Linked DNA regions of Homo sapiens: region 1 is linked to region 2. A link means that fine-mapping ties the variant in region 2 to the expression of a gene that starts in the linked region. Tissue or cell type: whole blood. Region 2 holds a variant in brackets; the other region holds the start of a gene. All regions are shown on one strand. Distances are from middle to middle.

What was found. PIP is the estimated chance that this variant, and not a neighbour inherited with it, causes the effect.
Region 1: GLIPR2 starts here. The variant in region 2 is fine-mapped to the expression of GLIPR2 in whole blood (TOPMed, PIP above 0.99).

The regions. Positions count from the first base shown.
Region 1 is chr9:36,132,972-36,141,075 of GRCh38, reverse strand. It overlaps GLIPR2 (GLI pathogenesis related 2), which reads right to left and starts at 4,343. Exons shown (of 5, transcript NM_022343.4): 1 at 4,285-4,343. The coding sequence starts at 4,297. RefSeq lists silencers at 4,042-4,091, 4,122-4,691.
Region 2 is chr9:36,317,794-36,325,897 of GRCh38, reverse strand. It overlaps LOC102724322 (a long non-coding RNA gene), which reads right to left. Exons shown (of 5, transcript XR_001746660.2): 5 at 7,433-8,101. Among named protein-coding and RNA genes, the nearest start is that of GNE, 63 kb to the right of the region's middle. The variant C/T (reference allele first, on the strand shown) is at 4,781.

The DNA of each region.
Region 1 (8,104 bases), 180 kb after region 2:
TACCATCGGACAGGGACAGAAACCTTTTGGGCTTTGGCTTTAGAAGAACCTGTTCCTGCTCCTTCCGGGTCAGGTCCCCTCCTGCCCTGCCTTTACATTGACGTTTGATGGCCTTTTTCAGTCCCTCTGAGCTTGGATATTTGCTAAGTGAATGAGTGAGTGAACAAATGAATGAGGTTCTCACTCCAGCACAGCGAAGGCGGGACAGGATTCCTCTCTTCATTACAGATGAGGAAACTGGGGTGTTTGGATGGTGGGGGGCATGCGCATTGTCCAAGACCACACAGAGCCCACATTAGAGCCGGGTGTAAGAATGCCCCTCCCTTTACCCCCTCCCCTGCTCCAAATCTCCCACACTTTCCACTTTACGAATTGCTTCCTCTTTTCCAAATGGCAAGAATGATGTCTATGACGAGTTGCTCAATTGCTTACGGGAACAAGGCACCCCCTTCCCCCAAGCATCAGCCTCCCCTAGGCTGTCCCTCTCCATAGACAGTGGTTGTAATTGAAGGGGAGGCAGCCATTTTCCAGCCCTGCCTGCCTACTGTCACTCAGGCACATCCCTACCCCTCTGGGCCCCAGGTTTCCCATCTGTGTGTGAAGGAAGGATGACATCTGTGGTTTTCATAATATCTTCAAAGCAGGGAAACCCTTCCTTTGAAGGAAACCTTCAATAAAAGCAACAGATGAAAATGAAACTGCTGGGGTTGGCCTGGCCCACACAGCTTCTCCCTGCAGAGGCCTGAGGGTCCCACTCAGTAGAAAACTCCTGGGCTCGTTGGTCCCTAAAGGCCTCTCTGCTCTGATTTCCTCTGGTGCTAGGTGGATGGAGGGACACTAATATTCTTAGAGCTGATGAGAGGGTGTGTGGAAGTCCCCAGTGGCCTAGAGTTCAGGCTGGCAGGGAGCAGGGTGTCAGGGCAAGTGGTCAGTGTGGGAGAGAGGACAGGACACAGTAGGGGAGTCAGAGAGCTGAGTTCAAATTCACTGGCTTGCTTACCTGTCAGTGTGTGAGCTTGGGCAAGGTACTCAACCTCTGTAAATCTATAGAATGAGTTGATAATAACTGCCTGGCAGTGCTGTCACTAATATGGTAACATAGAAAATACTGAGCTCTTTGCCTGGCATGCAGTTGAAGATTAATCATTGGTGTCACCAGTATTAGGGACAGGAGGCTTCCACTGAGCCCAAGGTCATTGCCTTTCTCTTCCCCACCACACTTGCTGCACACCAAGTCCCAGCAGAGAAACCACAGCTGGGAGCAGGATCTGGGAGTCTTCGATCACTAGGCCAAGCGTCTTCTGGAATTTCAACTGTGCCAGCTGTGTGATGATTTTACAATAACGCCTGTTATGCCAAGCAGCTCTGGGGTGTATCTGAGGTTAAAGATGAAAAAGAGACTGGCTCCTGTGCAGTGAGGAGGAAACTGAGGCCCAGAAGGGGCAGGGACAGATTCCTTATGATGGTCTTTACAGAAGCACACAGAGCCCCTGTGAGTGCCACCTGCCCTATAGACACAGACAGCAGCCCTGGGCTGACGGCCTGGAACTTCAAGGTTGAGCTTGAGTTGAAGGACCACTGGGCACGGGGTCACCCAGAAAAGTCATTTTCTTTTAGGGACCCTAGGAGAGCCAGATATTAATACTATTCTGGGGGCTCTCGGTTTTCCGGTTGGGGTGGGGGAGTTAAATTAAATGCACGTGACTATGAGGGAGAAAGGCCTGGGTCAGAATTCTGCAAGGTCCCTGGGTGTGTGTGTGTGTGTTAGGGGTGGAGGTGGCCTCTGACTCAACCAGTTCTAACCTGCTTTCTGCCACTGGCCCCCTCCTCTCCTGAGTGAGAAGTAATCTTCCTCTGAAACCTGCCCAACCCTGCATCTCCAGGCATGGAAGCCATCATCCCATCGTGCAGGCCTCTGACCCTTCCCTCTGCTTCACAATAAGTTGTCACCAAGTCTGCCCAAGGCCACCATCTCACAAATCCATCCCATCCTCCTCTCCAGCCTCCACCCTGCCCTGGATGCCTCTGTCATCTCCTGTTTGTGACTGCGGCAGTCTCCCCTATCCTCCCTCCACCTTCTCTCCATCCATCCGATCTACCCTACACCCTGGCAACGCTCTAGTTACGCTGCTTTCAGATCAGTGCCTTTCCATGGCACCCCAGGTTCCATAAGATGAAGTCTAAATTCCCAAGACCCTCTGGGATTTGACCATCTCCTCCAGGAACCCTCGTCGGCTCCCACGCGGAGCAGTCTCCTCACCTTGAGCTCCCACCACCCTTCACCAGCACCTGTCTTGTGGTTTGGATCATTTTCCACCTCTTACTCGAGCCAGATAGTGCCTGTCTATCCCCTACATAGCTTTATGTATTCCTTTCACAATCCAAGTGGATGCACGCCCCGGCACTGGGTCCACAGCTTGATACAGAGCTGCTAGACAGTGCAAGGGAGGGAAGGAGGAAGGGGCGAACAGACAGAAGAATGGGCACACAGCTGAATATGAGCAGTTCTGGAAAACCGTGCCTTACATAAGATGCCAGAAACAACTGATTAAGGTGTAGCCTAGGCTGGGCGCACCTGTAATCCTAGCACTTTGGGAGGCTGAGGCAGGCAGATCATGAGGTCAGGAGTTCAAGACCAGCCTGACCAACACGGTGAAACCCTGTCTCTACTAAAAATACAAAAGTTAGCTGGGCGTGGTGGCGCACACCTGTAATCCCAGCTACTCAGGAGGCTGAGGCAGGAGAATGACTTGAACCTGGGAGGCGGAGGTTGCAGTGAGCCGAGATCGCACCACTGCACTCCAGCCTGGGCAACAGAAGGAGACCACGTCTCAGAAAGAAAGAAAAAAAAAAAGTAGCCTAAGGGAATTTGTGGATTTTCTCCACAAATTTCTACAGAGAAAGGAGTTGATTTCCCAAGCAGATATCTCGAAAGACTCGCTCTCATCTGCCATACTTTTGCTCCATCACCATCTGTCATCCTGTTAACTAAATGGCAACCCATTATATCACCTTTCCATACTGTGAAGAACCCCAGGGCTCATACGGCCACCCTCATTGTACAGACAGGGAGGAACAGAGGGAAGGAGGCTTGCTCAGTATCACACAGCCAGTGATTGGCTGGGCCAGGGCTGAAAGCCAGACCTGCCTCTACAGCCTAGGAAGGCTGGTTAGGACCAAGGCCAGGGAAAGCCACTTGCGCCCAGCGCTGGCATCTCCTGAGTCCAGATCTTGGAGGACAGATCCTAGAAGGGACCTAGCCTTACTCATCTGAAGTGGACAATCCGGATGAAGCAGGACTTCTGAATCCTGTTCAACAGCTGTTCTCTAAGAGCCTCCTGTGAGGCAGAAGCAATGCTGAGATAAACACGGCCCCTGGCAGCCAGGGGTGAGGACCCGGTGGGAAACAGGTCTATGGCTGAACTCTTGTCCCCGGCCCACTACAGGAAGGGCTGCAGCGAGGAAAACACCAGGTTGGGCGCTCCCTCCCGGGGGGAATCACAGATGGGCTCCAGCCCAGGAGCTGAGCCTAGAGGGATGGGATTTTCAGGCTGAGAGTTGGGGTGGTGAAGGCCCGGCAAGGAAACCTAGGGGAAGGGACCTGTGCACCAGCTTCTGGACAGCTCTAGTGTAGGGCGGAGGTAAGGGCTAGGGACCCACTCCCAGGGGCCCGAAGGCAGGACTGGAGTGTGTCCTTTCACTCTGAGGACAATGGTGAGGAAGGTGTTAGGGAGCGACAGGAGGAGAGCTGCGCTGCAGAAAGTTCATCCCGACAGCCACAGTAGAGAGGATGGGGTGCCCCAGGAGAAAGGGAGCCAGACCGAGCCTAGCACAGGGGGAGCCCGGCACGGCGCGGGCGCTCAGGAGAGAAGGAACAACAAATGGATGAGGGGGATGCTCAGGGCTGTCCTCGGGACAGCCGAGCGGGGCAAACTGCTTCGCAGCGAGAGCTGTTGTCACACTTTGGTGACTTTTCCAACTCTAAGTCTGGCCTCCTGAAACAAAGCAGAAGCCACGCCTTGGCGGGCCGCGGCGCGCAGCCCCTCAGGGTCGGGAAGCCCAACTTGGCGCGATCCCCGGCTCTCCGGCGGGGGCCTCCCTCGGGCTCGCCTTCCCCCCGGGTTCCCCGGAAACCGCGCCGGGGCGCTCCGCCCGCGCGCCCTCCACCCGCACCCCGGGCTCCCGCACTCCCCAGGACCTGGCTTGCGGCGGACGAGGGAGACGGCGAGGTCCGGGAGCGCGGGGTTCCGAACCATTCCGCAGCGGGCGAGCCCGCGGGCTCACCTGACTTGCCCATGGCCGGCTCCGCGCGCTCCTCGCTCCCCGCGGCTGCGCTGCACTGCGCTCGCCCGGCCCAGCGCCGCCCCAGAGCCCAGGACCGGGCTGATGCCGCGGCCCCTCCTCCGGCGCCGCCCGGCCCCCGCCTTATAAGGAGCGACAGCTGAGGGCGGAGGCGCCCGGGGCCACCCCGTGGGCCTCCCGGAGAGCTCACCCCTGGGAAGCAGCTCCGCGACTGCCGAGGGCTCCCCGGATGCGGCCGCGGGGCTCAAGCCTCCCGGACCCCACACCGAGCTGTCCCTTCCCGGGGCGCGTGGGGAAGCCCGCGCCTGCTGGGCCCCGGGTGGCTGCTCTGCGCCGACGCGCGGCGAGGACAGAGGGGCGCGCGGTCGCGGCACGAGGGGCGTTCCGGCCGGCGCCACCAGGGGACGGCCTCTCCCTGCCGCGGCCTGACACGACACACGCAGCCCCGGGGTGTGCCCCCATCTCCGGTGACTCTGGGCTCCGGAGGGCGGCTGGTCCGGGGAGGGGGATGCTCCTCTCCTAGGACACGCCCTCTAATGCCAGTCGGGGTGGAAGCGCCGCCGCCTCTGACCCGTCCACTCGCCCCTCATTGCCTCCCAGACCAAGCCAATTCCCACCCCTGCAGTCTGGCCCCAGACCTGTCTCCCCAACGCCCCACCTTTTCCCCATACTCCAGTCAAACTAGATGTCTTGTCATTCCCCAAACATGTTCTGGGATTTCCCACCTCCCTGCCTTTCCTCAGGCGGTCCCTCCTCCGGGAGTGCTGGCCCTGGAGCCACCATTCCAGTGCTGCCCATCCCTCGGGGTCGGCCGGTCTTTCCAACTGCCAGGTGCCCTGACCCTGGGAGCAGCACACACCAGGTACTGGGGAGATGTGGTCCCACCCATGGCCCCTGCCCCGTGGGAGAAGTGCACTTACTTGACCGCACAGCCCTAGTCACCTGTGCCAGACTTCCCGCAAGCGCTCCTTTCTGGGGAAGGGGCTCAGTACACCCCAAATGAAGGAAGCGAATTTTAAGGCTTTTCAATGAATGGGCACTGAAGTGAGCTGACCCACTGATGATAAGGCTAGAATTTGTAATACCAACGGCTTACGAATGTCCCGCAGGGCGATGGCTGGGCACTGTGCTCTCTATTCCTTTCCCCATGTCAGGCAAATACACCTACTGTATTTTAGTACCGTCATGAGTAATGACATTTCAGTCAATGCCAGACCACATATACTGTGGTAGTCCCAAGAGATTATGATACCATATTTTTACTATGTTTCTATGTTTACATCTGTTTATATATGCAAATTTTTACCATTGTGTTACAGTCACCTAAAGTATTCAGTATGGGTCAAATTGGTGCCCAACCCTGATTCAAAAGGGACTCCTGGGGCTGGGTGCGGTGGCTCACGCCTGTAATCCCAGCACTTCAGGAGGCGGAGGTGGGAGGATTCTTGAGCCCAGGAGTTCAAGACCAGCCTGAGGCAATATAGTGAGACCCCCCCTCCCATCTCTATAAACAAACAAAAGGGACTCCTGGTGCTAGGTGGGGATCTAACCCCCTCTATTCAATTCCCTCTCCCATTTTGTCAACAAATGCCTATTGAAATAATCAAATAAACACAGTAGGAAGAATTCCATGTTGCCCCTAGAATCTCTAGAAGGCTGTATTTCACATAACAAAAACTTTAAGGCCGTGGGTGGAGACAGTGAGGCTCAGCGGGCTGCTCACTGCACGCAGAGGGAAGCCCATCTGGGACCACCATGTTTCACTGACACCTTGAGGTCTGAGGACTGGAGGTGAGAGGGGCTGAGAGTGGATGCATTTCCTAACTTAGAAATTCATAACCTTAGCAGCAGGCACATGAAGGAACAGGGTGCTGAATGGAGGGTGTTAGGGCAGTGCCAAAGTCAACCCCGACCAAGGGCCGTGGGCTAGTTGGAGAGGGAGTCGCTGTCCAGGCATCAGACACAAGAGACAAATGGCCACAAAGGTCAGACACAAAGAAGAGTGATTGACCCAATGTATTGTCTTTGTGTGTGTGTGTGTGTGTGTGTGTGTGTGTGTTTTGAGACAGTCTCGCTCTGTCTCATAGGCTGGGGTGCAGTGGTGCGATCTCGGATCACTGCAACCTCCACCTCCTGGGTTCAAGCAATTCTCCTGCCTCAGCCTCCCAAGTAGCTGGGATTACAGGCATGTGCCGCCATGCCCAGCTAATTTTTTGTATTTTTAGTAGAGACGGGGTTTCACCATATTGGCCAGGCTGGCCTTGAACTCAAGTGATCTACCCACGTTGGCCTCCCAAAGTGTTGGGATTAGAGGCGTGAGCCACCCCGCCCAGCCACCACTACTCCATCTTTTAACTTTTAACCGTTTCTTTATATTTAAAATAGACATCTTATAGTTGACAAGATGCAGTTAGGTCTTTTTTTTAAATCCTGTCTGACAATATCTGCCTTTTAATTTGTATTAATACCATTCATACTTGATAACATTATTTTCTTTTTTCTTTTTGAGATGCAGTCTCCCTCTGTTGCCCAGGCTGGAGTACAGTGTCTTGATCTTGGCTCACTGCAACCTCCACCTCCCAGGTTCAAGCAATTCTGCTGCCTCAGTGCCCTCCCCTTGACCCCAGTAGCTGGGATTACAGGCATGTGCCACCACATCCAGCTAATTTTTGTGTTTTTAGTAGAAACGGGATTTCTCCATGTTGGCCAGGCTGGTCTCAAACTCCCGATCTCAGGTGATCCACCCGCCTCGGCCTCCCAAAATGCTGGGTTTACAGGCGTGAGCCAACACTCCCGGCCCGATAACATTATTTTCAAATTTGTATGGAATAAATACAAAAATTGACCAAATGTTAGGTCTTAAACTAAGCTGTAATAAATTCCTGAAAGTAGAAAAAATTCAGTCACATTTTCTGAGCACAATGTAATAAAACTAAAACTAAATAACAAAAGATTGGCTAAAAATTTTTGAATCATCTAGAAAATAAAAAAAATCCCTCTTACAGCACTGAAAGGCAAAATCAAAACACGTTCAGATATAAATGACAATCTGAATACTCTGCAGGCTGGGCGTGGTGGCTCACACCTGTAATCCTAGCACTTTGGGAAGCCAGGGCAGGTGAATCGCTTGAGAACAGGAGTTTGAGACGAGCCTGGACAATATAGAGGGACCCTGTGTCTCACAAAATTAAAAAAAAAAAATTACAAAAATTAGCCAGGTGTGGTGGCACATGCCTGTGGTCCCAGCTCCTCAGGAGGCTGAGATGGAGAATCATTTGATCCTGGGAGGTCGAGGCTGTAGTGAGCTATGATTGTGCCACTGTACTTTAGCCTGGGCAACAGAGCAAGCCCCTGTCTAAAAAAAAAAACAAAAAACAACAACAACAAAAACTTGGTAATTGTTAAGAGTGTGGAACATGGGTTTGAAGTCCTGTGGCCCAAGTTCAGTTTCTAGCTCTGCTGCCCACAGAGACTGTGGCTCTGGTTTGGGTGCTCGGGTTTCTCCATGTCTGTTTTCTCATCTGTAAAATGAAGATAATAATACTTATCTTAGATAATTTTTTTAGCGATGGTGTCTTGCTATGGTGCCCAGGCTGGAGTACAGTAGCTCACTGCAGCCTTGAATTCCTGGGTCAGATGATTGTCCTGCCTCTGCCTCCCAAGTAGCTGGGACTACAGGTGAGTGCCACTGCACCTGGCTTAGAGGATTTTTTTTTTTTTTTAAGATTGAGATCACACTCAAGGAAACTCACATCTACTTCAGTTTCTTTGGGATAAATTCCTAATCTTTCTGGGCTCCTCT
Region 2 (8,104 bases):
AGCTCTGAGTGATGCACTGCGGAGGCCTGGCAGAGACAGGCCAGAGGAAGGCTGCCGCGGCTCCCATGACTTGCCCAATTCTGGGTGAACCACCTTCCTGGTCTTGTGTATCTAATGAATTAGGTTCAAGTCAGTCATTATTAATCCAGACAGAGTTGACAGCCACCCCGACATACCGCACGCACACAGAAACTGCAACCAGCAACAAGCCCTGGCCCGTGCACAGAACTCAGATGACATCAGCTCCTCGACCGTCCAGGGTCCATGGGGCCCATTGTCCAGAGAGGGCATCGCCTGTCCCACAGGGACTGGCTCATCGAGACTCTTCCTAGGAATCTACCACCCAAACCTGACTTGGAACCAAAGGCCATGCTGGAGGGAAATGCCCCAGAGTCTCATCTCACAAAGATGTGGACGGAAGCTCAGGCCCAGGCAGCCCCAGAGTCTCATCTCACAAAGATGTGGACGGAAACCCAGGCCCAGGCAGCTATTTCTTGAAGCTCCTCAGTGCACTCGGTGAATTGCACAATAAGTAGCCGTAGGGGCTGCTTGGACAAAATGGCTGTGATGAGAGAAAAAGCAGGAAGCTGGCAGAAGTTGTAGGCACAAAGCTGCTGTCACAGCAATCCACCCGTAGGAAGTCCCTGGCCGACCTCACAGGGGCTCGCTCCCTGCTGCTGATCTGCAACGCTAGTTCCGCTTCCGGGCTATCGGCGCAGCTCATAATGACTCTATCCGCTGAGGCCCTCGGGAGTGGGGCCAGGTCAGCGTCCATTTTGTATGACATGACGTGCCCCCTGTGCCCATGGGTGTGCCTTCTCTAGGATTTTGGAACTGAGGGAGGAAGAAAAGAACAGTGATGGCCAGGCGTGGTGGCTCAGGCCTGTAATCGCAGCACTTTGGGAGGCTGAGGCCAGGAGATCGAGATCAGCCTGGCCAACATGGCGAAACCCCGTCTCTACTAAAAATAACAAAAATTAGCTGGGCGTGGTGGCAGGCACCTGTAGTCCCAGCTACTCGGGAGGCTGAGGCAGGAGAATCGCTTGAACCTGGGTGGCAGAGGTTGCAGTGAGCTGAGATCGCACCACTGCACTCCAGCCTGGGTGACAGAGCGAGACTCTATCTCAAAAAAAAAAAAAACCAGGAAAAAAACAAAACAAAAAAAACCAGTAACCGTAGTGGCCACCTTTTCCTGCCGCAAGGCCTAGAGGAGCAGAGAGAGCCTGACTGCAGGAAAAGAGAAGAACAGAGCAGAGACGGAGAGGAGCAGAGAGGGAAGCAGAGCACCCCGATGGAGCATGACCAATGGTCCCTGGTCGTGTCCTACCTGGACCTCAGCTCTCAAGCTCCATGAGACACCCGTGGATCCTTAGGACGAATTCCCCAAGTTTTGGTTTTTATTTTTGAGACAGGGTCTTGCTCCTAGGCTCAAGTCATTGTCCCACTTCAGCCTCCCAAGTAGCTGGAACCACAGGTTTGTGCCACCACTCCCGGCTAATTTTTTAAATTTTTTGTAGAGACAAGAGGTCTCATTATGTTGCTCAGGTTGGCCTCAAACTCCTGAGCTCTAGCAATCTGCCCGCCTCATCCTCCCAAAGTGCTAGGATTACAGGGGTGAGCCACCGCGCCCAGCCAGTTCCCCATGTTTTGACTTGGTAACATAACTCCAATTCGTTGAGAATCCTTATTAACACCAGAGACGTGCCACTAATTAGCAGCGTGTCCATGGGTCATTTGTGTAACCTCTTCAGGCATCATTTCCTCATCTAGCATGTGGGGATACGAAGATACTTCGCAGGATCAAAGGGACGCAAATAACTGAGTGAGAATGAAAGTGCCAACTACGGTATACCCACATGGCAGGCTCATTAACCAACAGCTTTCCTGTGTGAAGACACCTCCAAAGGTCTGGAGAGAAGGTCCTGGAATCATTCACGTATTAATGATACGTGGTTGAAACTCAGCACTGAATGAAAAATCGATTATTTTGCCCTCTAGAGCATTCAGTTTCTTCTAAATCAAAAGAAGCAATATTGTCTTCCGGACTAAGTTCTTGGGTTTACAAATCTAGACATTTTGTCTAATGAACATTTTTCATTGCCTACCAGTAACCATCCCCATTCCTCAAGGCAAATTATCCAATAAAGATAGAGAGCACAAGTCTTTTTTTTTTTTTTTTTTTTTTTTGAGACCAAGTTTCATTCTTGTCACCCAGGCTGGAGTGCACTGGCATGATCTCAGCTCACTGCAACCTCTGCCTCCCTGGTTCAAGCAATTCTCCTGCCTCAGCCTCCTGAGTAGCTGGGATTACAAGTGTGCACCATCATGCCCGGCTAATTTTTGTATTTTTAGTAGAGACAGGGTTTCACCACATTGGCCAGGCTGGTCTTGAACTCCTGACCTCAAGTCATCCACCTGCCTCGGCCTCCCAAAGTGCTGGGATTACAGGTGTGAGCCACCATACCCAGCCAGAGAAACCTTTTTTTTTTTTTTTTTGAGACAGGGTCTTCGCTCTGTCACCCAGGCTGGAGTGCAGTGGTGCAATCTCAACTCACTGCAACCTCCGCCTCCTGGGTTCAAGTGATTCTCCTGCCTCAGCCTCCTGAGTAGCTGGGATCACAGGCACCTGCCAGCATGCCCAGCTAATTTTTGTATGTTTAGTAGAGACGGGGTTTCACCATGTGGGCCAGGCTGGTCTTGAACTCCTGACCTCAGGTGATCCACCTGCCTTGGCCTCCCAAAGTGCTGGGATTACAGGCGTGAGCCACCGCGCCCAGTGGAGTCTTTTTTTTTTTTTTTTTTTTTAAGATGAGGCTCTATGTTATCCAGGCTGGTCTCAAACTCCTGGGCTAAGGGATCTTCCCACCTCATCCTCCTAGGTAGCTAGGATTACAGGCACACGCCATGGCACTCAGCTTTGAAGCCTTTTATAACCTATAGTAACCTTATAACCTAATTGTGGAAGTGACTTGCCATCCCTTTGCTATATTCTTTGGTCGCACAGGCCAATCCTGGTGCACTGTGGGAAGGGACTGCCTAAGGGTGTGGATATCAAGAGGCTGGGATCCCTGGGGCCATCTTGGATGCTGCCTACTACAGAGAATACGTTTCAAGATTTCCTATCAAAATATCCCTGAGGGCAGAGGGGAATGACTGTGAATGGACTCTGCAGGGCCTGCAGGTTTGGCACCAACAGCAAATAGCTCACTACAATGGAGAAATGCCCAGCCAATTTATCCTCTCTTAAGTACATAATAATTACATTACATCCCCGTTACACCAGAAGGTTTAAGTAAATGTGATGCTTTCGGAGCCCTGTGACATACATTGGGTAGGCCCAGTGCTCAACTTCTAGTTTGAAGAGCAGGGCAGGGGAACTTGTTTGGAGACTGGTTAGAGGTCTAGGAAGGCCAAAGTGACAATTGCTTATGAGAATTGGCAACTACAATGCCTGAGGCATTTTTGTTTTTTAACTTATTTTAAGTTCAGGGGTACACGTGCAGGTTTGTTATATAGGTAAACTTGTGTCATGGGGGTTTGTTGTACAGATTATTTTGTCACCCAGACATTAAGTCTTGTATCTATTAGTTATTTTTCCTGACCCTCTCCCTCCTCCCACCCTTCACATCCTGACAGGCCCCAGTGTGTGTTGTTCCCCTCTATGTGTCCTCATCATTTAGCTCCCACTTATAAGTGAGAACATGAGGTATTTGATTTTCTGTTCCTGCATTAGTGTGCTAAAGATAATGGCCTTCAGTTCCATCCATGTTCCTGCAAAGGATATAATCTCATTCTTTTTGATGGCTGCATAGTATTCCATGGTGTATAGGTACCACATTTTCTCTATCCATCTACCACTGATGGGCATTTGGGTTGATTCCGTGTCTTTCCGATTGTGAATAGTGCTGCAATGAACGTATGTGTGCATGTGTCTTTATAATAGAACAATTTGTATTCCTTTGAGTATATACCCAGTAATAGGATTGCTGGGTCGAATTGTATTTCTGTTTTTAGGTCTTTGAAGACTCACCACACTGTCTTCCACAATGGTTGAACTAATTTACACTCCCACCAACAGTGTAAAAGCATTCACTTTTCTCTTCAACCTTGCCAGCTTCTGTTCTTTTTTGGCTTTTTAACAGCCATTCTGACTGGTGTGAGATGGTGTCTTATCATGTTTTTTATTTCAGTTTCTTTAATGATCAGTGATGTTGATTTTTTTTCATATGATTCTTGGCCACATGTATGTCTTCTTTTGAAAAGTGTCTGTTCATATCCTTTGCCCACTTTTTAATGGGGTTGTCTTTTTCTTATAAATTTAAGTTCCTTATAGATGCTGGATATTAGACCTTTGTCAGATGCCTAGTTTGTAAAATTTTTCTCACATTCTGTAGGTTGCATGTTTACTCTGTTGATAGTTTCTTTTCCTGGGCAGAAGCTCTTTAGATTCCATTTGTCAATTTTTGCTTTTGTTGCAATTGCTTTTGGCTTCTTCGTCATGAAATATTTGCCAGTTTCTATGTCTGGAATGGTATTGCCTAGGTTGTGTTCCAGGGTTTTTATAGTTTTGGGTTTTATGTTTAAGTTTTTAATCCATCTTGAGTTAATTTTTGTATATGATATAAGGAAGGGGTCTGGTTTCAATCTTGTGCATATGGCTAGCCAGTTATCCCAGCACCACTTTGAACAGGGAGTCCTTTCCCCATTGCTTGTTTTTGTCAGGTTTGTCAAAGATCAGATGGTTGTAGGTGCGTGGCCTTATTTCTAGGCTATCCTGTGC[C/T]ATTGGTCTATGTGTCAGTTTTTGTACCAGTACCATGCTGTTTTGGTTACTGCTGCTCTATAGTATAGTTTGAAGTCAGGTGGCATGATGAGAGGCATTGTTTATAATATTAATACTAGCACAGGAGCTCACACATGGGTGTGATGTGTATTGCATGCACACTCACACAACAACCTAATGTCCATCAGTGAAAGCCAGTTAAATAAGTGATGATATAGTTATGTGACTGGACATTAAGATGGGATTATTTCTGTCTCCAATTCAGCTGAGACCTCAAAGTCTGAGAATACATAAAAGATGCATAGTTCCCCTGCATCCCAAGGGAGGGGCTGGATCACACATGCAGAACACACTAAGATATTATGAAACCAGGTCTGCTGGCATTAGCGTTCACCCCATCCTACCCATCAAAGGACAGAAGGGTTGATGAGTCAGTGGAGTGCTGAGGCCTCCCCAGCCCTCCCCACCACACCCCTGGGGAGGTGGGAGGACCTGCCTGGGAGGTGGAGTGGCAGGAGGGAGCAGGCTGGGGGGCACTGCCCAGAAGCTGCCCTCCCACTGCCCAGTGCTTAGTGCCAGTGCTCCCGGACCACACCGAGGGACGAGCTGCTTATTCTCGTGGCCCCATATCAAGATGCAGATAAACTGGGAAAGAAGAGAATTTCTATTTCTGTAACCAGGTGCAGGGAGAAGGCCTGGAAATTATCGCCAGACCAACTCAAAATTTCAAAGTATTCCAGAGCTTATATACCTTCTAAGCTCTATGTGTACGTGTAAGTGTGCATTTATCTAAAGACATAAGTGATTAACTTCTAATCTATAACTAAGGTCTGAGTCCTGAAGACCTTCCTCTGGAGCCTCAGTAAATTGACTTAATCTAAATGGGTCCAGGTGCTGCAGTGATTACCCTTATCTTGTCTCCTACTAAATCACAGAGGTTTGGGGAGTTCCTTCCAACCTCCAATAAACTTGTTCGTGGAGGCCTGGGGAGTTTCTTCAGACCCCCCAATAAAACTTGTTTGTTTAATCCTAAACAGGTTTTGTTAAGAATGCCTTCGTTATTTTGTCATGCTTTAAGGCCCAGGAAAGGCCTAGGCGAAACTCTGGGTGGGGTTTTGTTACATTCCAGCTTTTGTGTAAGGACACTGGCTCTACCAGCTTTTAATATTTAACTTCACCAGTCAGTACTGAAATAGTTGTTACGGAGGCCCGCGTTCCTGAGGCCTGGCCTGCCATACCAGGAGGTTGAAAGGAGTGGAAGAGGAACTCTGATATTTGGATTCAAATACTTCTATATTGTCCAACATAAACATGTTCATATGTTACCAAAAAAAAAGGAAAATAAAGGAGTAAAAAAGCATGTACAATGAGCACCTAATAATTAATAGTTTGTTCTAGGGAGCAGCCCTGGGAAAGCATTTCCAGCAATTTCAGATTTTTGTTATGTTTGAATTTTTTTACAATATGCATGTTTTATTTGTAGAAGCAGAAAATAATATCCAAATATAGCATTTTAGAAATAATTATAAAAAGCTACCAGAAGGCCCAGCTCTTCACCCCTCTCCTCCTCCTCCCTCCATTAAACACAGAACTCAGCCCAGCAGGGTAGGGCTGCAGCCCATGGCAGCACTGGGAGAACGCTTCCTTTCTCTGGCTGCCCACACCCAGGATGGGACTTCCAAGCAGGACAGGGAACAGGTCCCTGTTCAGGTCCAGGGATCAGCTGGGACGCCAGCGCCTTGAACCTGACTTCCCCAGGCCAGGACTCAGCCCCCTCCTTGGAACCCCATTGCTCCCCGGACTCTCCCCATCTCAGCCTCTCCCACACTCCACCCGTCTGCCGGCCTGCACCCCAGCTCTGTCCCCTCCTCTCCATCCCCAGTCCACTCACCTTCAGCTGGTAGTGAGCTTTCCCATGAGGAAACTGAGGCACGCTGGGAAAAGGGAGCTACTCCAGGTCAAGCAGCAGCTTAGCAACAGGGCTGGGACCCAGGCTTCCCAGTAGCCGCTATGGTGTGCTTTAAGTAACACCACACACCTGCACAGCTGAGGTGCGCCGCACCTCCCCCTCACTATACTCCTTCATTCCAGATTGAAATGTGCACCATGCTCAGGCAAAAACAAACAAACAAACAAACAAACCAGGCTTTTCTCACAAAATCAAATCAGAAGGTAAGATGTGTGTGGCAGAAACAAGTTTCTTAACTTCCCGAAACCTTATTTTCCTCATGTGGAAAGTGAGTTGAAGAGCTCCTGCCTCATGGCATCGCGGGGGATCTAATGAAACGATGTGGTGCAGCTGGTGCCTCATAACTGGCAGCTGTGGTTTGTTTCTCCCAAAACCCGCCACTCTGGCCCCCAGCCATTCAGGAGCTGTTTTAGGTGGCATTCATTTGGGTGGTGGGGAGCAATGGAACTTTTTCTTTTTTCTGAGACGGGGTCTTGCTGTCGCCCAGGCTGGAGTGCAGTGACGCAATCTCATCTCACTGTAACCTCCTGCTCCCTGTAACCTCTGCCTCCCAGGCTCAAACGATCCTCCCACCTCAGCCTCTCAAGTAGCTGGGACTAGGTGCACACCACCACGCCCAGCTAATATTTGTATTTTTTGGAGGGACGGGGTTTCGCCATCTTGCCCAGTCTGGACTCGAACTTTTGGGCTCAAGCAATCCTCCTGTCTCAGCCTCCCACAGTGCTGGGATTACAGGTGTGAACCACCACGCCCCGTCCCAACGGAACTTTTTCTTCCTCATCCAACAACGTATATATTTGCTCTTCAGTGAGTAAACAGTTGTCCTTTTTTTTTTTTTTTTTAGCAGCACTGGATTCTAGGAAAAATGAAAAATGAAGTGCATGCTTCACTTACTATGCCCCTGTGTAATAAACATCAGCTTTACCGAAGAAGAAACCTGAGGCTGTGTCCACACTGCAGTTATCTTCCTACACTCTCCATTTCTCCTTATTCTACAGATTGGCTGGGGGAAACTGAAGGATATATTCCTGGTGCAGTAAACCTGATGGTCAAACCTTCCCGGAGCTCCAGGGCAGCCAGCTGCTAGGAAGCCTCTCCCCTCTGGCCCACACCCTTCCTGTTGGCTCCTGGCCACACCAACCCATCACCTGGGAGGATGCTGGAGAAACGGGGTTGCCCCAAGAGTCCACGTGTCCTTGACGCATGGCCAGACTCAACAATGGGCTTCTTAATGAAACTGGGAAACTGCAGAGTTCAAGTGGGGGTTGGGTGCTGAACCGTGGCTCATTCCCTCAGGGATCAAATATCAGCAGAGTCATCAGGTAAAGGCCACCAAGTTCACCTTCACCTTCCTG